Homo sapiens: one gene and its partners. The protein of the gene in region 3 interacts with the protein of the main gene of each other region in a pairwise test. Each region holds a gene or a part of one and is shown on either strand. Other genes may lie near its edges.

What was found.
Region 1: the proteins of SLC52A3 (region 3) and DNM2 interact in binary tests that used the Homo sapiens proteins (3 or more experiments, as listed by UniProt).
Region 2: the proteins of SLC52A3 (region 3) and ATXN3 interact in binary tests that used the Homo sapiens proteins (3 or more experiments, as listed by UniProt).

What each region holds. Positions count from the first base shown.
Region 1 is NC_000019.10:10,825,915-10,832,403, forward strand, and holds the end of DNM2 (dynamin-2), read left to right. Parts: intron 1-3,058; exon of another isoform or gene 3,059-3,121; coding exon 3,122-3,354; intron 3,355-4,212; coding exon 4,213-4,464; intron 4,465-5,063; coding exon 5,064-5,133; 3' UTR 5,134-5,989; downstream 5,990-6,489. UniProt on the Homo sapiens protein: Catalyzes the hydrolysis of GTP and utilizes this energy to mediate vesicle scission at plasma membrane during endocytosis and filament remodeling at many actin structures during organization of the actin cytoskeleton.
Region 2 is NC_000014.9:92,103,583-92,111,546, forward strand, and holds the start of ATXN3 (ataxin-3 reference isoform), read right to left. Parts: upstream 3,001-7,964; 5' UTR 2,971-3,000; coding exon 2,947-2,970; intron 1-2,946. UniProt on the Homo sapiens protein: Deubiquitinating enzyme involved in protein homeostasis maintenance, transcription, cytoskeleton regulation, myogenesis and degradation of misfolded chaperone substrates.
Region 3 is NC_000020.11:759,563-765,647, reverse strand, and holds the end of SLC52A3 (solute carrier family 52, riboflavin transporter, member 3), read left to right. Parts: coding exon 1-440; intron 441-1,644; coding exon 1,645-2,150; intron 2,151-3,823; coding exon 3,824-3,947; intron 3,948-4,409; coding exon 4,410-4,622; 3' UTR 4,623-5,568; downstream 5,569-6,085. UniProt on the Homo sapiens protein: Plasma membrane transporter mediating the uptake by cells of the water soluble vitamin B2/riboflavin that plays a key role in biochemical oxidation-reduction reactions of the carbohydrate, lipid, and amino acid metabolism.

The DNA of each region.
Region 1 (6,489 bases), on a different chromosome or scaffold from region 3:
GTCTTAGCACTTTGGGAGGCTGAGGCAGGAGGATCACTTGAGCCCAGGAGGTTGAGGCTGCAGTGAGCTATGATCATGCCACTGCACTCCAGCCTGGGCGACAGAGCAAGACCTTGTGTCCAACAACAGCAACAACAAATTTGAATGAATCACCACCCTTTGAACACCAGAATCTGCACGGCCATCCTCTTTGGGAAACCCTAGGGTTTCCGAGCCACACTGGGTCCATAGTCCCATCAAGTCCACTAACTGGAGTGAACACTGCAGGTGTGCGCCTTCTCTGAATTAACTTAGGCTGGCATCAGAATAACTGCAGGAGGGAGAACGGCCATCTTCCCCATTTCACAGACAGAAAACAAGGCCAGAGAGATCAAGTAACCTGCCCCAAGTTCCTTAGGAAAGTGGGAAGTGGGATTCAAACCCACGTTTACCCTGGTTGCAACCATACCCTTGGGTTGTGTTGGGCAGCCGCTGTGTCCTAATGATCTGGGGCCCAGCCTCTTCCTCATGGGCGTCACCCGCCTGGCCCCGGGTTCCCTGGAGACTCTCAGGGCTCTGGGCTCCTCTTCAGTGAAATGCAGCTGTACTGATAGTATCTCCAGCTCAGGCTGCTAGAGGGCTCAGGGCACTTGTGTATCAGGCCTTTGGCATGGCACTAGCCACTCAGGAAGCTTTATAAACCAGCTTTGGGGCCGGAGCAGTGGCTCATGCCTGTAATCCCAGCACTTTGGGAGGCTGAGGAGGGAGGATCACTTGAGCCCAGGAGCTGAAGACCAGCCTGGGCAACATAGCCATACCCCAGTCTCTACAAAAAATTTAAAAATTAGCTGGGCGTGGTGGCAAATGCCTGTAGTCCCAGCTACTCAGAAGACCGAGGTAAGAGCATCACTTGAGCCCAGGAGGTTGAGGCTGCAGTGAGCCATGATTACGCCACTGCTCTCCAGCCTGGGTGATGGAGCAGGAACCTCTTTCAAAAAAAAAGTGTCTTGGGTTTTGTATATGAATGTCAACCACAGAAACCTGCGGATCTAAGTAAAACTCCCACACAGGGTGTGGCTGGGCATGGTGGCTCACATCTGTACTCCCAGCACTTTGGGAGGCTTGGCAGGAGGATCACTCGATCCCAGGAGTTCAAGACCAGCCTGGACAACATAGTGAGACCCCATCCCTATTTAAAACACACACACACCTCCCACGTGCCATGCCCTCCCACCCTGTTGCTCCCATTCTCAGTAGTGATCAGTGTTCACAGTTTCATGGTGTCCTGGTATGTTTCCTCATATACCGATAGGATCGGAGACATATACGGTTCTTCTGCTATGAAATTTAAAATGCATATATCCTTTGACCCTGCAAGTTTACTTTTAGGAACTTCTCTAAGAGAGACAATTGCCCACGTGCAAAGTGAGCTTATACATGCTTATTGTTTTCCATGATGTTTTATAGCAGCCAAAGATGGGACATAATTATCCATTTTTAATAGACTCTTATAAAATAAAAATATTTTATTATTTAAGAAAATAATAAATCTGTCGGCCCAGCTACTCGGGAAGCTGAGGCAGGAAGATCACTTGAGCCCAGGAGATCGAGGCTGCGGTGAGCAAAGATCGCTCCACTGCATTCCAGCCTGAGTGATAGGAGTGAGACCCTATCTAAAAAAAAAAAAAGTTGTGACGGCCAGGTGTGGTGGCTCATGCCTGTAATCCCAGCACTTTGGGAGGCTGAGGCGGGCACATCACGAGGTCAAGAGACTGAGACCATCCTGGCCAACATGCTGAAACCCCCCTCTACTAAAAATACAAAAATTAGCTGGGCGTGGTGGCACGCGTCTGTAGTCCCAGCTACTCTGGAGGCTGAGGCAGGAGAATCACTTGAACCTAGGAGGTGGAGTTTGCAATGAGCGGAGATCATGCCACTGTACTCCAGCCTGGTGACAGAGGGAGACTCTGTCTCAAAAAAAAAGAAAAAAAAAAGTAACTGAAAAACTTCTGTATCCAGTAGGAGGTTCCAGAAAGGACAATGTATAAAATTCATGAACAGAAACTAGTAGTGTTTGAACAGAAGCCAGGTGGAAGATGTAACAGGATTAGCCGGGCGCAGTGGCTCACTCACGCCTGTAATCCCAGCACTTTGGGAGGCCAAGGCGGGTGGATCACCTGAGGTCAGGAGTTAAAGACCAGCCTGGCCAATATGGTGAAACCCCATCTCTGCTAAAAATACAAAAATTAGCCGGGGGTTGGGGGGCACGCCTGTAGTCCCAGCTACTTGGGAGGTTGAGGCACAAGAATTGCTTGGACCCAGGAGACGCAGGTTGCAGTGAGCCAAGATTGCACTGCAGCCTGGGTGACAGAGTGAGACTCTGTCACAAAAAAATAAAGATATAACAGGATTGGCTGGGCGCGGTGGCTCACGCCTGTAATCCCAGCACTTTGGGAGGCTGAGGCAGGCGGATCATAAGGTCAGGAGATCGAGACCATCCTGGCTAACAGGGTGAAACCCTGTCTCTACTAAAAATACAAAAAATAAGCTGGGCGTGGTGGCAGGCGCCTGTAGTCCCAGCTACTTGGGAGACTGAGGCAGGAGAATGGCATAAACCCGGGAGGCGGAGGTTGCAGTGAGCTGAGATTGCACCACTGCACTCCAACCTGGGCGACAGTGAGACTGTCTCAAAAAAAAAAAAGCAAAAACAAAAAAGATATAACAGGATTATTCTGCCAAGGTTAAGGAAATAAATAAATAAGCTAAAACAGGAGAAAAGACATCAATGGAAGAGGCAAGATACTAGAAATAAGTTGAATAAGAATCTCATAACCAGCCTGGGCCACATGGTGGAACCCTATCTCTAAAAAAATTACAAAACTTAGCCAAGCATGGTGTCAACGTGCCTGTCGTCCTAGCTACTTGGGAGGCTGAGGCAGGATAATTACTTGAACCCGGGAGGCGGAGGTTGCAGTGAGCTGAAATTGAGCCACTGTACTCCAGCCTGGGTGACAGAGCAAGACTCTTTTTCAAAAAAGTCTGGGGGTGGCCCCGCCCTGTGAGAGATGTTTTTCCAGCAGTCACTGTGGGTTCTGGGTTGGGGTGATACACAAGCCTGACCCTCCCCAACCCCTGCCCGCAGACGAAGGCCTTCATCCACCACGAGCTGCTGGCCTACCTATACTCCTCGGCAGACCAGAGCAGCCTCATGGAGGAGTCGGCTGACCAGGCACAGCGGCGGGACGACATGCTGCGCATGTACCATGCCCTCAAGGAGGCGCTCAACATCATCGGTGACATCAGCACCAGCACTGTGTCCACGCCTGTACCCCCGCCTGTCGATGACACCTGGCTCCAGAGCGCCAGCAGCCACAGGTCCGGAAGCCTGGTTCCCCTACCCTCAAGCATTCGGCCTGCAGGTTCCTGCCCTCCCTGTGTGTCCTGCAGGGTCCTGGCAGGAAACAGGACACAGCCCAAGGGTGGCACCCAGGGCTGGGCACTGTGGGAGCTGCTGCCCTGCTGAGGCCGGAGGAGGGAGAGAAGGGGTATGGGGGCGAGCCAGCCCTACAGCTCTAGGGCAGGACCCTGTGAATAAATACCCCGCCTGCCCTCTGCTGGTGCCTTCCATTGGCACAGCCCAAATGGAAGCTGGGGTAAGAGGCTGGAGGGGCAGCAGCCACAGGAGAGAGATGAGCCTCCTGGAGCACAGAGAAGGGCAGATGGGAGGCTCTGGAGGGGCAAACGCAAGGCGTGGCCAGAGCTGCTGCCGCCCCTGAGTTGTCCATTGAGGCCGTCGGGCAGGGAACCTCAGAGGGGGCTGCCTTGCAGAGCCCTGGGGGAGCCATGGAGTTCCTTAAGGGGAGGATATCGCACCCAGGCCTGCAGGTGGCAGGGACTGAGGCCCAGGAGGGAATCTGGATGTCTGGACAGGGCTTGCAGGTTCCACGGCCCCTAGAGATATTAGGGCTTGATCTGGAGGACTCTGGAAGTGTCTTTGGCTGTGAGGGTGGATCCCAGGCCCAAGGCCTGAGGGGGCCCTGTGAGTGGGAAGTGCCTGAGGGGGCCGAGGGCAAGGGAAGGTGGGACTGGCGCTCAGGTTGGGGTGGGAGGATCCCACTGCGCCTGCGCTGTCCCCATAGCCAGCCCCCACCTCAGGTTCTGGCAGCCACAGTGGCATGGCGGGGGCTCCTACTCCATCTGTATCTGTAGCTCACACCCTCTCCTTCCTCACAGCCCCACTCCACAGCGCCGACCGGTGTCCAGCATACACCCCCCTGGCCGGCCCCCAGCAGTGAGGGGCCCCACTCCAGGGCCCCCCCTGATTCCTGTTCCCGTGGGGGCAGCAGCCTCCTTCTCGGCGCCCCCAATCCCATCCCGGCCTGGACCCCAGAGCGTGTTTGCCAACAGTGACCTCTTCCCAGCCCCGCCTCAGATCCCATCTCGGCCAGTTCGGATCCCCCCAGGGATTCCCCCAGGAGTGCCCAGGTAAGGCCAACCCCCTGCCCTCCACCCCAACTGCCTGCACCCTGGGGTCTCTCCTCCTGTCTCACTTCCTCCCAGTGAGCTCTCACTACGTGCCCAGCTGCTGGAGTGGAGGAATCGTCCTCATCCCTATTTGGCTTGCGAGGAAACAGGCCCAGAGAGGCCAAGAGGCTTGTTCAGTGTCACAGAGTAGCGGAGCCCTGGTGACTCCGGGGCTCCCAGCTTGCCCTCTGCCTACTGGGGTGTGCCACCAGGCAGCTGGGGAACCCTCACACTGGGCACCTCCTCCCACTGTTTACCTTCTTCTCCTTCCTGCTCCTGCCTGCCTCAACCTACCGTGGGCCAGGCTTTATTCTCCCCACTTCTCCGGTGGGGAAGCTGAGGCCCAGGGAGGGCAGGGGGCTCACTGAGGGTCAAACAGCAGGCGAGTTGATGCCTAGGTTTGGCACTCCTGCCCGACACCCTGGTGGCTTGCGGAGGTCAGCCTGGGAACACCCTGGGGTGGTGTGTGGGTGGGGGCTGGGTCCTCAACCCAGGCCTGCCTCTTGCTCCCGGCCTCACTGCCGTCTCCCCCTCCCCACCTGTCTTTATTCTCTTTGCAGCAGAAGACCCCCTGCTGCGCCCAGCCGGCCCACCATTATCCGCCCAGCCGAGCCATCCCTGCTCGACTAGGCCTCGAGGGGGGCGTGCTCTCGGGGGGGCCTCACGCACCCGCGGCGCAGGAGCTTCAGTGGTCTGGGGCCCTCCGCCGCCCCTATGCTGGGACCAGGCTCCCAGTGGGCAGCCCTGGCCTCTTCCTTAACGCTGGCCCCGGTCCAGGGCCGGCCCCTGTGCCTGGCTGGACACCGCACTGCGCAAAGGGGCCCTGGAGCTCCAGGCAGGGGGCGCTGGGGTGTTGCACTTTGGGGGATGGAGTCTCAGGGTGGCAGAGGGGGGACCAGAACCCTTGACACCATCCTGAATGAGGGGTCCAGCCTGGGGGGGACTCTACCAAGGTCTTCTTGGGCTGGGAAAGCCCATGTAGGGCAGGCCTTCTATAAGTGCGGGCACCAAGGGCGCCTACATCCCCAGGCCTTGCTGGGGTGCAGGGGTATATCAACTTCCCATTAGCAGGAGCTCCCCAGCGGCAAGCCTGGCCCAGTGGGCTCGGTAGTGCCCAGCTGGCAGGCCTGAGGTGTACATAGTCCTTCCCGGCCATATTAACCACACAGCCTGAGCCTGGCCCAGCCTCGGCTGCCAGAGGTGCCTTTGCTAGGCCCGGAGCCGTTGGCCCGGGCCGGCCTTGCCCTATTCCTCTCCTCCTCCTCCTCCTGGGTCCCCCAGGGTGGCTGGGCTTGGGCTATGTGGGTGGTGGTGGCGGGGGGTCTTGGGGGCCTCTCAGCTCCCGCCCATGCCTCCCTGATGGGTGGGCCCAGGGCGGCCTCTCTCTGAGGAGACCTCACCCACTCCTCGCTCAGTTTGACCACTGTAAGTGCCTGCACTCTGTATTCTATTAATAAACTAAAATAAAGGGAAGACGCTGCTGGTGGCTGCTGTGTGGGCCTCTTGTGTTAGTGTTCAGGCTGGGGACATGGGTGCCACCTCCATCAGGCCTCCCATAAGGATGCCCAAGTCCCTGCACTCATAAGTGCCTCCCATCTCCCTGAGGGCTCTGCTTTCGGGGGTGTCACCTTTCAGAGGAAGCCACTCGATACAGGGGAGAGCTTTTACTTTCCTTAGCATGTGAGGAGTGGGAGCAGATATTCTCTGACCCCCTGCACACCCCCACGTGCACAGGCCTGGCTGCTGCCTGGTGAAGCGGGGACCCCAGCGCTCCACCCCCTTCCTACCCTCAGGCCCTGCTTCTCTCACCTCGTGGGGAAGCCCAAGCCTCGTGGCCCAACTGGGGCTCAGTTAAACTTTGCTTTCTGATTTTTCTCTTGTGCCAGGCGACCACCTCCATCGGCTCCCGCACGACCTTTCTTCTGAGCTTCGTGGGAGGCCCCTCCCACCTGTCTGGCTGCCCCCTCGGGGGCCGGTCTGTCCTGG
Region 2 (7,964 bases), on a different chromosome or scaffold from region 3:
ACGCCCAGCTAATTTTGTTCATTCTTGTAGAGACAGGTCTCACCACGCCCGGCCCCATTCAAATATTTATTGAGTACTTACTCTGTGCCAGGCCCTCTCTCAGGCACTGCAGATATATCAGTGAGAAACTGTTTTTACATTCTAACTTAATAAAGGGTACTCAAAGTGACTACTCAGAAAGAGGAAACCAAGGTTCCAAGAGGAAATGGTTGCAAGGCCCTTCGTAGGCAGATATTGCTACCTACACAGCTTCTTTAGGGCCAAAGTTGGTTCTCTGGCTCTCCAAACCCAGGACCTAGCAAGGGTTAAAGGTATATTGCAGAGGGGAAGGCAGTGAACGGAAAAATGGCACAGTAAGCCCAAACATTCCCAGAATGGACTGTATAGGAGATTAACAATTGGGCCATATGGTTATAGGTGCGTACTCTTGAGGACGCCCAAAAAACTAAATTGTTGAATCTTCACATGCTATGTAGATACAAGTTGATGATAATGGTAAAGGTATTCCTGAAGTATCTGTAGGCCTATACACATGCTGATAATTAAGAGGGACTCTTTTTTCCTTTTCTTTTTTTTGAGACGGAGTCTCGCTCTGTTGCCCAGGCTGAAGTGCAGTGGCACGGTCTCGGCTCACTGCAACCTCTGCCTCTCGGGTTCAAGCAATTCTCCTGCCTCAGCCTCCAGAGTACCTGGGATTACAGGCGCCTGCCACCACACCTGGCTAATTTTTTGTATTTTTAGTAGAGACGGGGTTTCACCATGTTGGCCAGGCTGGTCTCAAACTACTGACCTCATGATCCGCCCGTCTGGGCCTCCCAAAGCACTGGTGTGAGCCACTGCACCCAGACTAAGAGGGATTTCTTTCGGGTAAGTAGATTTTCACTAGGCTAGCACTCAGCTTTTTTTCATCCCATGGGTCAGTACAAATGTGTCCCAACTAGGTAACAATATTGTTAAAAATCTTGTCTAATTCTCAGGAAGTAGTGTGGAACATGTTTAAGGCCTTCCATGTTGAAATGTGGTCCCACACCAAAGCCTTTGAAAATTAATAACAAAAATATGGCCGGGTGCGGTGGCTCACGCCTGTAATCCCAGCACTTTGGGAGGCCGAGGCGGGCGGACCACCTGTCAGGAGTTGGAGACCAGCCTGGCCAACATGGTGAAACCCTGTCTCTACTAAAAATACAAAAATTAGCTGGGCGTGGTGGCGGGCGCCTGTAATCTCAGCTACTGGGGAGACTGAGGCAGGAGAATCGCTTGAACGGGGAGGCGGAGGTTGCAGTGAGCCATGATGGCGCCATTGCACTCCAGCCTGGGTGACAAGAGCCAAACTCCATCTCAAAAAAAAAAAAAAAAAAGTACGTGTGTATTTTTCACGCACTCTACTCAGCCAAGCAACCAAATCTCTATTGTCTATGATTTACGAGTCATGTCAATCAAGTCAAAAAATTAGTGACAACTATACGACTGAGTCCTTCCTCCCCCACTGAACATCAGCCTATTTCAAAAGTTTCCGAGATGTTTTCTACAATGAAAAGCATTGTACTTAACAATTTGTTCCAGGCACAGTGGCTCACGCCTGTAATCACAGCACTTCGAGAGGCCGAGGTGGGAGAATCACCTGAGTCCAGGAGTTCGAGACCAGCCTGGGCAACACAGCGAGACCCCGTCTCTCCCAAAAACATTACCTGGCCCTGGCGATATGCACCTGTAGTCCCAGCTACTCTGGAGGCAGAGGCGGGAGGATCGCTTGTGCCTAGGAGATCAAGGCTGCAGTGAGCCATGATCTCTCCATTGCACACCTGCCTGGGTGACAGAATGAGACCCCATCTTTAAAATAAAAATTAAAAAAAATTTATGCTACAGATTTACATTTGGTAAATGTATTCTTTTGTCTTTGCTTTATTTGTTGTGTGTGTGTGAATTTTAAATGTCTGGGATAAATGATCATTTATAAGTATTTAATAAAACAAAAACCCTTTGCTCCTCCTATTAAATAACAGCCTTACCAGCAACTCTTTCCAAACACGAAACTATTATGAAACATGATACCATGTGCCAAAGCTGTCCTGGGGAAGGCTTCACTCACACACAAATGGCTGGATAATAGTATGAGAGAAACGAGGAGTTTCTTTACATATCACAAACAGTATCTTCAAGTGCATGGTCACGGAAGAGTTAAAGGGACAGCAGGCTAGGCAGACTACAACAAAATCATCCCAGTCCACTCCTAATACCTAAAAACAAAGCTGGCCGCCTGCTCCGGAAAGATGGGAGTACCAAAAGAAACCAAACCCAAACATCCCGTAATAAAAACTCTTGTGACGACTTCCCTGTTTAGGGGCACGCCGGGTTTCCTACTTCACTTCCTAAATGTCAGGCCCTACAGTGGGCGAGCCAAGGTCTCCTCCCTCGGGAGGCTCGCGGACCTAGTGCAGGGGAAAGACACGAACAAGACCCCAAAGATCTACGTGTAGGGAAGACTCCAATATAGAATTGAGCAGTCCGGAGGAGGAAAAGTTAATTCTGCCAGGATTAGGGTAGGAGGGGTTGAGGGAGGTGTCCCAGAGATGACTCTAGCTAGACCCTAGGGAGAGGGAAGGATTGGGGAGGGGTGAAGGAATCCTCCGAAAAGCGATGGAAAGTGACGGAGAAAGGCAGAAGCAAACCCACTGGGCGCCACCCCACTCCCGTGTCCCGAGACGCCCCCGGCCCCGCCCATACTCCCTCCCGGCTCCCAGGGCGGGGGCCGCGGGGGAAGTAGGGGCGTAGGTGATGCTCCCCTCCTCGAGCCGAGGAGGCGGGAGGCTGCGGCGTCGCCCCTCGCCGGGCGAGATCGGCATGGGGGCGACTCGGGCCCCACCCAGCCCTCCGAGAGGCGGTGATGCCGCGCTCCACGCCCGCCACCGCGCGGCAGACAGCTCCCCACCGAACGCGGACACTCACTTTCTCGTGGAAGATGGACTCCATGTTTATTTGTCTGGAGCCAACGGCCCCCACGCCGAACCACCCCCTCCAGCTCCGCCCCCTGCCCCTCTCCTCCGCCCACCCCGCCCCTCCCCGGCCCGCCCCGGTACCCCGCCCACGTGCCGCACGCAGACCAATCACCCGTGAGGATGCGAGTGTCGTGAAGCGAAGAGCGAGTGAACGCCGGGGACACGTGACCTTGGTAGCGCGTCCTCCTAGCTTCTGTTAGCGGGCCTTCTGGGGGATGCTACATCGCCACCTGCTGTCTGGAGGATCTTCTCCGCTTCCCACCCATTTCTATGGATTCTTAGGTTTCTGGGGGGAGGTCTGGACCGCTCACCTGGGTTCTATGTTCTTTTTGTTTTCCACTTTGACTTTCTACTGTGTTCATATAACTATTTACTTTCTTTCTCCTCCTCCTGCACTGAAAGTTTAGTAAGAAAAAAGCCATCATTACATTCTCCCAAAACCCAGCACTTGTATAAAAATGATAGCTAGGCCGGGCGAGGTGCTTCACGCTTGTAATCCCAGCACTTTGGGAGGCCGAGGCGGGCGGATCACCTGAGGTCGGGAGTTTGAGATCAGCCTGACCAACATGGAGAAACCCCGTCTCCACTAAAAATACAAAATTACCCGGGCGTGGTGGTGCATGCCTGTAATCCCAGGTACTCGGGAGGCTGAGGCAGGAGAATCGCTTGAACCCGGGAGGCCGAGGTTGTGGTGAGCCGAGATCGTGCCATTGCACGCCAGCCTGGGCAACAAAAGCGAAACCCCTCCCCCACCACCCCAAAAAAGAAAAAAAATGATAGTTAATATTTACATAAGGCTTTCTATGAGCTAGGCACTTTTCTAAATGCTTTGCATATATTATCAAATTTAATACAGCAAACTTTGATGTAGGTGTTGATGTTATTCATACACATGAGGAAACCGAGGCACGGAGAGGTTAAGAACAGCACAATGTCCAAGGTCAGATAGTAAGTTGTCTTGCCAGGATTCAAATCCAGGTGGCTTGTTACCAGTGTAGGTGTTCGGACCCTTTAGAGGGAACTTAGAAGTCCCATAAATTGTGTGGGAGACGGGGAGGTAGCAGCGGTTTGATGAAACTTAAATGGAAGGATAGGTGCAGATCTTGCACCTTGAAACCAGATTAAGGTGTACTTTTTTTTTTTTTTTTTTTGAGACGGCCCTCTCTCTGTCCCCCAGGCTGGAGTGCAGTGGCACAATCTCCCCGCTCACTGCAACTTCTGCTTCCTGGGTTCAAGTGATTCTCTTGCCTCAGCCTCCCAAACAGCTGGGATTACAGGCGTGCACCACGAAGTCCAACTATTTTTGTATTCTTAGTAGAGAAGAGGTTGTACCATGTTGGCCAGGCTGGTCTCGAACCCCCAGCCTCAGGTGATCCACCTGCCTTGGCCTCCCAAAGTCCTGGAATTACAGGCGTGAGCCACCGCACCTGGCCAAAGTGTACCTTTTAAAGGATGTGGGGAGCTATATAAATATTTTAAAAGAAGACATGTGGTCATGTTTGCCTTTTAGAAAGATCACTGGCTGCAGAAAAAAGCAGTTGCTGTTGAAGGAATCTTGGGAGAGACGATGGTGGTTTAAGAGAGTGTCTTAAAGATGGAAATAGCCCATTTTGAGAGATTCTTTGGACGTAAAGAGACTCAACAGAATGTGGTGATGATACCGAGTGGAGGAATACTAGCCTTTTTCGTCTTGAGTCGAATTACATAAAACGACATGGACAAACGTGGAGTGGTTTTAAGGAGCGGAGAGTTTAATAAGCAAGAAGGAAGGGAGAAGAAAGAAAGAAGCAGCTCCCCTGTACAGAGACAGAGGGATGGGTGCTCCAAAGCTGAGAGAGGAGACCCAGAGTGCGTGGGAGATACCAGCCAGTTATAGGAGGAGGATGCAGGAGGCGGTGTCTGATTTGCATAGGGCTCAGGGGACTGGTTTGACCACGCATGTCATTCATGTAGCCCCCTAATAAAACTGGCCATTCCACCCTAGCCTTTTAATATGCAAATGCAGGGCGCTATGATGTTCTACTCATGTGGGGATATGTGGGGGTGGCCATGTTGCCAGGCACTTGTGAGAACAAGGGCAAGAGGACGATGGTGGGAATCACCGTGTTGGTGGACCCAGTTTCTAACTGCCGGCATTTGCATATCAAACGTTGCCAGCTCGGGTCTAAAAGTCAGGGCTTTTATGCTAGACAGGAAACGTCTCAGGAGCTGCTTCAAAAGAGACAAAAACTTTTCAAGGACCCCTTTTCCTCTCTATCTGCCTAAAATAATTTCTTAATAACTCCTACCACAATGAGGGATTGGGGAAGGTAGGAGACAGAAATGTGAAGGTGACTTCTGGGTTTGTGACCTGGGCAGCCACTGTGGCAGGAGTGGTATTGAGAGCAGAAACATGGGAGGAGCAGCAAGGTTTTGGGAAGAGAATAAGATAGAGTTTACATTTTGGAGATACTGAATTTGAAATATCTATGGACATTTGAGTAATTATGTTGAGTAATGGTTGGATACCGAGTCTGAAGTTCAGGAGGCTGCTTTGAACTCAATGAGGAATTGTCATTAAAAAACAGATAGCTAAGGCCATTGTGGTGGTGCATGCCTGTAATCCCAGCACTTTGGGAGGCTGAGGCAGGCAGATCTCTTGAGGCCAGGAGTTCAAGACCAGGCTGGCCAACATGGTGAAACCTCATCTCTACAAAAATACAAAAATTAGCCGGGCGTGGTGGCTCATGCCTATAATCCCAGCTACTCAGGAGGCTGAGGCAGGAGAATCACTTGAACCGGGAGGTAGAGGTTGCAGTGAGCCAAGATCGTGCTATTGCACTCCAGCCTGGACAACAGAGTGAAACTGTGTCTCAAAAAAAAAAAAAAAAAAAAGTAACTGAAACCATAGGAGTGAATAAAATCATTTTAGGGAAAAGGAAGTGATTGAGAAGAGGGCTAGAGCTGAGCCGTGAGGATAGGAGAAGCAATAACCAAGGAGGAGGGAGGAGAAGCAAGAGAGTGTGACATTGTGGAAGGCCTGGGCAGGGGATGCTTCAAGGGGTAGTCAGTGTCAGTTGCTGCCAAGAAGTCAAGCAATATAAGGTCGTATAAGAGCCCACTAAATTTTGTTGCTATGGAGACCATTGGTGACTTTGGGGACTGCAGGTTCAGAGAAGTAGAGGGGGCAGTGAGAGGTAAGAGAATGGAGACTGCCAGAGAGGACCAGGTGCTGAAGGAGAGGATTCGGTACCATTTATCGAGCATCTCTGTGTGCACGGTTCACAGCCTTGTATGGGGGAAAGTCCATGTTCTTAAGGATTTGTGTGGCCTACCCAGGGAAATAAATTATAGTCTCATGAAGTGAAAAAAATTGCAAACCACCTTTTCTGTTTTTGTTTTGTTTTTTTAAATTGTAGTTGATGTCTTTCAAATGAATTAATGAAGTCGAAGGTCTTAGTCTTTTTGGGGCGCTTTAACAAGATATCTTAGAGTAATTTATAAACAGAAGTTTATTACAGATCTGTAATAAATTTACAGGCTAGGAAGTCCAAGATCAAGGCTCTAACGGATTTAGTGTCTGGTGAGGGCCCATTCCTCATAGATGGTGCATTTTTTTGTCCTCACATGGTGGAAGGGGAAAAGGGGCAAACAAGCTTCCTCTCTGCATAAGGGCACTAATCTCAGTCACAAGGCTTGGCCTTATGATCTAATCATCTCCCAAAGGCCCCATCTGTTAAACCAACACACTGGAGACTACATTTCAACAAATGAATTTTGGAAAGATACAAACATTCAGATCATAGCACCAAGTATCTGGGAATCATTTTTTATTCTCTTCCCACAACTTCTCCACGTCACCCCTTATTCCAATCAGTCCTCAAATGCTATAAATCCACTCCTAACTCTCTCTTGCCCTTGTCTTCATTGCTACTACTTAGTTCAAGCCCTCTTGGTATCTTGTGTACTCTAGTCCAAGGATCTTTGAATTGGTCTTCTGATTCCAGTCTCAATATGTCTAATTCATGGTGCTGTCAGTGATCTTCCAAAAATGCAAATCTCACAAGATTTTCTTTTGTTTAACAAGAATAACTGCATATCAGGCCCTGGGACTATAACCATGAAAAACACAAACAGTCCCACCTTCAGGGGACTTACATTGGCAGGGATTCTTAAATGATTACACAACTCTGACTTCAAAATCCTTCAGTGATGGCCGGGTGCAATGGCTCATGCCTGTAATCCCAGTACTTTGGGAGGCCGAGGCGGGTGGATCACCTGAGGTCAGGAGTTCAAGACCAGCCTATCCAACATGGTGAAACCCCATCTCTACTAAAAATACAAAAATTAGCCGGGTGTTGTGGTGGGCACCTGTAATCCCAGCTACTTGGGAAGCTGAGGCAGAATTGCTTGAACCTGGGCGGCAGAGGTTGCAGTGAGATGAGATCGCAACAGTGCACTCCAGCCTGGGCAACAGAGTGAGACTCTGCCTCAAAAAAAAAAAAAAAAAAAAAAAATCCTTCAGTGACTTCCTATTGCCATCCTATTGCTGGCCTGAAAAGCTCTGTGATCTGGACCAACCACCTGTCCTGTTCTGTTCTCCCCAAATTCTCTCTGCCCCAGTCACTCCAGACTCTAGTCATACTAGCTTCTTCCTTTTACTTCTGGAAAGTTCACTAAGGAAAAGTATTTTGTGCCACCGCTACACCTTGAGCATGCCTACATTACAGCACCATTACATCATACTGGAAGTATTACTTTATATACTACTGAACTATCAGCTTTTGAGGGGCAGAGGAATCTTACTCTTCTTTTTTTTTTTTTTTTGAGACAGAGTCTCACTCTCTCGCCCAGGCTGGAGTGCAGTGGCGTGATCTCAGCTCACTGCAACCTCCGCATCCAGGGTTCACGCCATTCTCCTGCCTCAGCCTCCCAAGTAGCTGGGACTACAGGCGCCCTCCACCATGCCCGGCTAATTTTTTTGTATTT
Region 3 (6,085 bases):
ACCTCACGGTGGTCATCCAGCTGGCCAACATCGGGCCCCTCCTGGTCACCCTGCTCCATCACTTCCGGCCCAGCTGCCTTTCCGAAGTGCCCATCATCTTCACCCTGCTGGGCGTGGGAACCGTCACCTGCATCATCTTTGCCTTCCTCTGGAATATGACCTCCTGGGTGCTGGACGGCCACCACAGCATCGCCTTCTTGGTCCTCACCTTCTTCCTGGCCCTGGTGGACTGCACCTCTTCAGTGACCTTCCTGCCGTTCATGAGCCGGCTGCCCACCTACTACCTCACCACCTTCTTTGTGGGTGAAGGACTCAGCGGCCTCTTGCCCGCCCTGGTGGCTCTTGCCCAGGGCTCCGGTCTCACTACCTGCGTCAATGTCACTGAGATATCAGACAGCGTACCAAGCCCTGTACCCACGAGGGAGACTGACATCGCACAGGTACCCAGCATCACCCGGAGCCATCTCAGCACTTGGCTTTATCACAAATGTAGGGGAGGGAAAAACTGCTCACCTCCATCCTTCTAGGTTCTTTGGTCGGCCTATGAGTTAAACTGACATAAGGCAGATCAACAGCAGGAAACTCATTTTAATTACTTACATACATACGCATGGGAGTCCCCAAAAAATATGAGACTCAAAAAAGGGCCAGATGATTTCAGCTTCTATAGCATCCTGAGCTACAAAAGGGAATAGGGGCTTGAGGCTACTGCAGGATGGTGGAGACAAATTATGGGAGAGTGAAGGGAGGAAACTTATGGTGAATAAACATTGCACTGTTATGCAGATAAAAGTTCCTCGGGTGATAAAGGCCATCACCTTTCTCTTCCTGGTTCAGATACCCCTTCGTGGTACAGATACCTTTTCTTGGTACAGATAAGATAGCTTTACTAATAAAAATTTCCTTTAGATGTAAATTTATCTTACAAAATGGCAACTTTTCAGAGCTACTCCTTAGCCTGCAATTTTTCAAAATAACCAGCTAGAAATAAAAAATATGCCAATAGGTCAATTTTGGGGTGGCATATTCTGGCCTCCTACAGTCATATTTTGGGATGGCATGTCCTGAAGGCCCTTATTTCCTAGACGATGGGTGGAGCAGTGTTCTTCCTTAGGTGGGGGCTCTCCCCTTAGGTGGGGGATTCTCCCCTTAGGTGGGGGCTCTCCCCTTAGGTGGGGGATTCTCCCCTTAGGTGGGGGCTCTCCTCTTAGGTGGGCGGCTCCACTGCTCAGTCTCCAGCTAGCTCCTCCTCTGAACATGTTTGTGGTTGCCACTGCTGTGGGGTGATAAAAGGTGTAGCTTCCAAGTCAGAAAGCACCAGGTGGAGTCTGGCTTTGCCACATTCTCCCTGTGACCCTCAGGTAAGGGACGAAGCATTCTGATACCTCAGTTCCCTCTAAAATGGGGGATGATGGTGCCCACTGTGCAGCCCTGTTAGGAGGCATAGGGGCTTATCCATGCACAGTGCCCGTGCTCAGTGGGCAGTCAGTATGAGCAGTCATTATTGCCACCTTGTTAGTTATGTTTATTTATTCATTATCCATTAATAATAACAGGTGATCTGTATTCTGTTATCACTGTCATGATTGTTGTTCTGCAGCCTGATCCCCTCCCCTGACCAGGGATCTGTCTTGTCCTTTGCAGGGAGTTCCCAGAGCTTTGGTGTCCGCCCTCCCCGGAATGGAAGCACCCTTGTCCCACCTGGAGAGCCGCTACCTTCCCGCCCACTTCTCACCCCTGGTCTTCTTCCTCCTCCTATCCATCATGATGGCCTGCTGCCTCGTGGCGTTCTTTGTCCTCCAGCGTCAACCCAGGTGCTGGGAGGCTTCCGTGGAAGACCTCCTCAATGACCAGGTCACCCTCCACTCCATCCGGCCGCGGGAAGAGAATGACTTGGGCCCTGCAGGCACGGTGGACAGCAGCCAGGGCCAGGGGTATCTAGAGGAGAAAGCAGCCCCCTGCTGCCCGGCGCACCTGGCCTTCATCTATACCCTGGTGGCCTTCGTCAACGCGCTCACCAACGGCATGCTGCCCTCTGTGCAGACCTACTCCTGCCTGTCCTATGGGCCAGTTGCCTACCACCTGGCTGCCACCCTCAGCATTGTGGCCAACCCTCTTGCCTCGTTGGTCTCCATGTTCCTGCCTAACAGGTGTGCCCTCATCTGGTCCTAGGGAATCCTAGTGGGGGAACACTTCATTTCAGAACCCAGAATTCCAAACGCACCTACTGGGCTGTACATGTAGTGGTTAAGAACATGTTTGGGGAGCACCCTGGTCCAAATCCCAGCTCTGCCACCTGTCAGCTGTGTGTAAGACAAGTCACTTCAGTTCTCTGTGCCTCAGGGATATTTATCGGAAAATGGGAGTGTAACATTCCACCTCCTAGGACTGCTGGAAGCATGATATGAGCTGATTCTATAAAGCTCTTGGAGCGGTGCCTGGCACGTGGCAGGTCCAGCCTAAGCGTTGACCATCATTGTCATCAGTCCATGAGGAGGAGCAGATAGCCACTGAGGTTCCCGTTTATAAGGGGAAACCCTGAGGCTTGGAGAAAGAGCTTGACCTGGTCTAATTCCCAGGATTTCGGCCCTGCCTTCCTGCCTCTAACCTCCTGCTGGTTCCCTTAGAGCCACAGTTCTAGAAGAATGGCTGGGCAAGTTGATAAAATGCAGATTGAACCAGCCTAGACTGGGACCTGGGATTTCAATTTTTAGTAAGGAAACCAGACGGTTCTGAGGCAGGGGCTTCAGACCCCTGTAGGAGAACTACCACCTTGGGATCTTGACATTTGAGGTGGGTCCTACAGCCTCGTATCCACGCTGGCCTGCCTGTCCTCACTGGCCTGCTTACACCCACTCTCCCAGCCCAGAAGAAGGACAGTGAGGACAGAAGAGCTTGACAGAAAGCTTGCCAGGAAGCTGGATTTTCTACCTTGGGACCTAGAAACTGGAAAGAGGATGGAGGATTTGAGGGAAGCAGGACCAAAGGCTCAGACCTGCAAATCCAAGAAACCCCAAATGTTAGAATTACAGAATCTGAGTCATGGAATCCAAGAATCTTGGAGCAGAAAGAGTCTTTAAGGGTATAGGCAGACCTCTGTCTGTTCTTACCCAGGGCGTGGACCAGTCTTGGGGTTCTAGAGATTGGGACCCCAGGGACAAGGACCTGTGAGGAAGGACAGTGGTCCCAGATGTAGGTTTGCATGGAAGGCCACCTGTAGAGAGATGCTCCTAGCAGCAACAAGCCAGCTGCCAGGACCCCTGGAGATCAGCACACTCCACATTGCAGAGGCAGGTAGCTGAGGCCAGAAGGGGAGGGGTCTCCTGAGGAGGCACAGCAAACCCTACTGTGCCAATGCCCGATCCAGCCATCTTCACTTCAACTCAGCTTCCTGGCTGAGGCTGAGGGTGTGTTGCAGGAGGAAATGCCAGCAGGTAAACACCAGGTGGGCCCACAGCGGCGCCAGGCCTGCATGCTCTGCTCCTGGAGGTCATGCAGCCTTGCAAAACTCCGATTTGGAGGCTCAGAGGCGAGTCTCAGCTTAAACAGTAGAACTGGGATTTGAACCAGGACCATCCGGTGCCAGAGTCCATTATGTTTTTCTTGCCGGGGTGCCAGGCCCTGCCGTTAATGCTGGGGATGACTCAGGCCAGCCCTGCCTGCTCAGGAGCCTCCCTGACCCACTTGAGCCAGGCAACCTGGAATTTTCCACATGGGTCTAAACTAACTATGGAGACACTGGCCATCCACATGCCGCCCAGTGGGGCGGGGGGGTCAGAGGTCAGGCTTCTCACCTCCACTCACCTCCCCTACTTTCCTCTAGGTCTCTGCTGTTCCTGGGGGTCCTCTCCGTGCTTGGGACCTGCTTTGGGGGCTACAACATGGCCATGGCGGTGATGAGCCCCTGCCCCCTCTTGCAGGGCCACTGGGGTGGGGAAGTCCTCATTGTGAGTATCCGGCCGGTGGGGCTGCTCCCGCTGCGTACCCCTCACCCCTAGCCAAGGCCTGGGAGAGCTTGGGCGCGGCCCTTTCCAGCGAGCGGGGTCTGTGGGACCCTCCCGGGAAGCCCCAGGTGGGGGAAGCGCCCCTTCCTCATTTGGGAGTGGAGGCTTAGGGAATCGAGGTGACTGGTAGGCCTCTTCCCACCATGTGTACCTCAGCAGGGGCCTTCTCTCAAGGGCCCTTGCCCTGATCATGGGCACGTGAACCCAGAAAAGCCACTGGATTCTCCTTCGCCCCCGGGCGGCCAACTCATGGGACCCGTCGGCCCCGCAGGCTCACTCCCAGAAGGCGCTCCTCGCACCTAGAGAGTATTCCGTGGGTTCCCCTGAGCCCTGTGAGAGTTCTTTGCTCCGGCGCTCGCCCCGCAAGCCCCGTGACTCTGCACCTCTTCCCTCCCGGCCCCGCAGGTGGCCTCGTGGGTGCTTTTCAGCGGCTGCCTCAGTTACGTCAAGGTGATGCTGGGCGTGGTCCTGCGCGACCTCAGCCGCAGCGCCCTCTTGTGGTGCGGGGCGGCGGTGCAGCTGGGCTCGCTGCTCGGAGCGCTGCTCATGTTCCCTCTGGTCAACGTGCTGCGGCTCTTCTCGTCCGCGGACTTCTGCAATCTGCACTGTCCAGCCTAGGCAGGCCGCCGACCCCGCCCCCATCGCTCACGGACGGAACTGGGGTCCAGAGAGGCCAGGTCACAGAGCAAGGGGCAGGAACAGAGAGACAGAGCCTGAGTAATTGAATCATGAACGCAAGTGCCCACTGGGGACTGTGGGGAAGATGGCACCTGGAAATGCAAGGTGCGGCTCTATCCCCAACTCTGTGTCACACTACCTGTGACGACCAGCTCAGATCTCCTTTGCTTTGACTCTCAAGAGAGGACTGATTTGCAGCATCTAGCTGGAGGCAGGCCCAAGGGTGTTAGAAGGGAAACAGCTGGGACAGCCGGCTGTCCCTTCAGGCTGTGTGACCTTGGGAAAGTCATTTGGCTTCTCTGTGCCTGTTTCTTCATGCATGCAGTGGGGATTCCAGTAAGTACCAACTACCTCACAGGCATGGCACGGAGGCAAAAGGAAAAAGCAGCCCGCATCAAGCAAGCCCTCCTGGGCCACCTGCTGATCTGACAGTCCATCGTAGTAACAAGAGTGGCAGTCTGCACAACCTAGAAGTGGCCAGAAGGGTTGAGACACGCCCCTGCCCTCTCTCCTTTGCCCCTCAGTCTCACAGAGGGGCTTCTACAAGACAAGCAGATAACGATAGAATCTTGGGCATCTTGGCTTTCGGATTCTCAGTGTGGAGGGACGTAGTACCCCACACACCCCTTCCTGTCATCCTTCCTGGCCCATAAAGCCCACTAGTTGGAGAGTAAGTACCCTCCTGGAAGCCGGGAGAGATGATTTGCTGGTGGGGCTGGGGAAGGCCCATCCCTGAGCCTCTGAAAGTGAACTCCCCGACCAGGTTGGGGACCAGACATGCAGAGCCCCTGGAAGTATTCTCTCAAATGGAGGCAACAGAGGTGATTGTTATTTTGTTTTAGTTTCTGTTTTTCATTTTTTTAAATAAAGGCATTCCCTGCTTTTACACTCAGATCTTCCTTCAAAGGAGAAGTTCAGGCATGGCACAGTGGCTCACACCTGTAATCCCAGCACTTTGGGAGGCCAAGGCGGGCAGATCACTTGAGGCCAGGAGTTTGAGATCAGCCTGGCCAACATGGCAAAAACCCATCTCTACTAAAAATACAAAAAATTGCTGGTCATGGTGGCACATGCTTGTAGTCCCAGCTACTCAGGAGACTGAGAATTGCTTGAACCCCAGAGGTGGAGGCTGCAGTGAGCTGAGATCGTGCCACTGCCCTCCAGCCTGGGTGACAGAGCAAGATTCTGTCTCAAAAATAATAATTTTAAAAAGAAGAAGTTTAATGTGAACTCCGAAAATGTGTAATTAGTTTTCACTTGGTTCTAAGCTCAAGGCTGAGCTCAGAAATGAACAGAATCAAGTGCTTAAGGATGTCTGGTTCTGGGGCTTTTTTTGTTTTGAGATGGAGTCTTGCTCTGTCACCCAGGCTGGAGTGCCGTGGCGCAATCTCAGGTCACTGCAA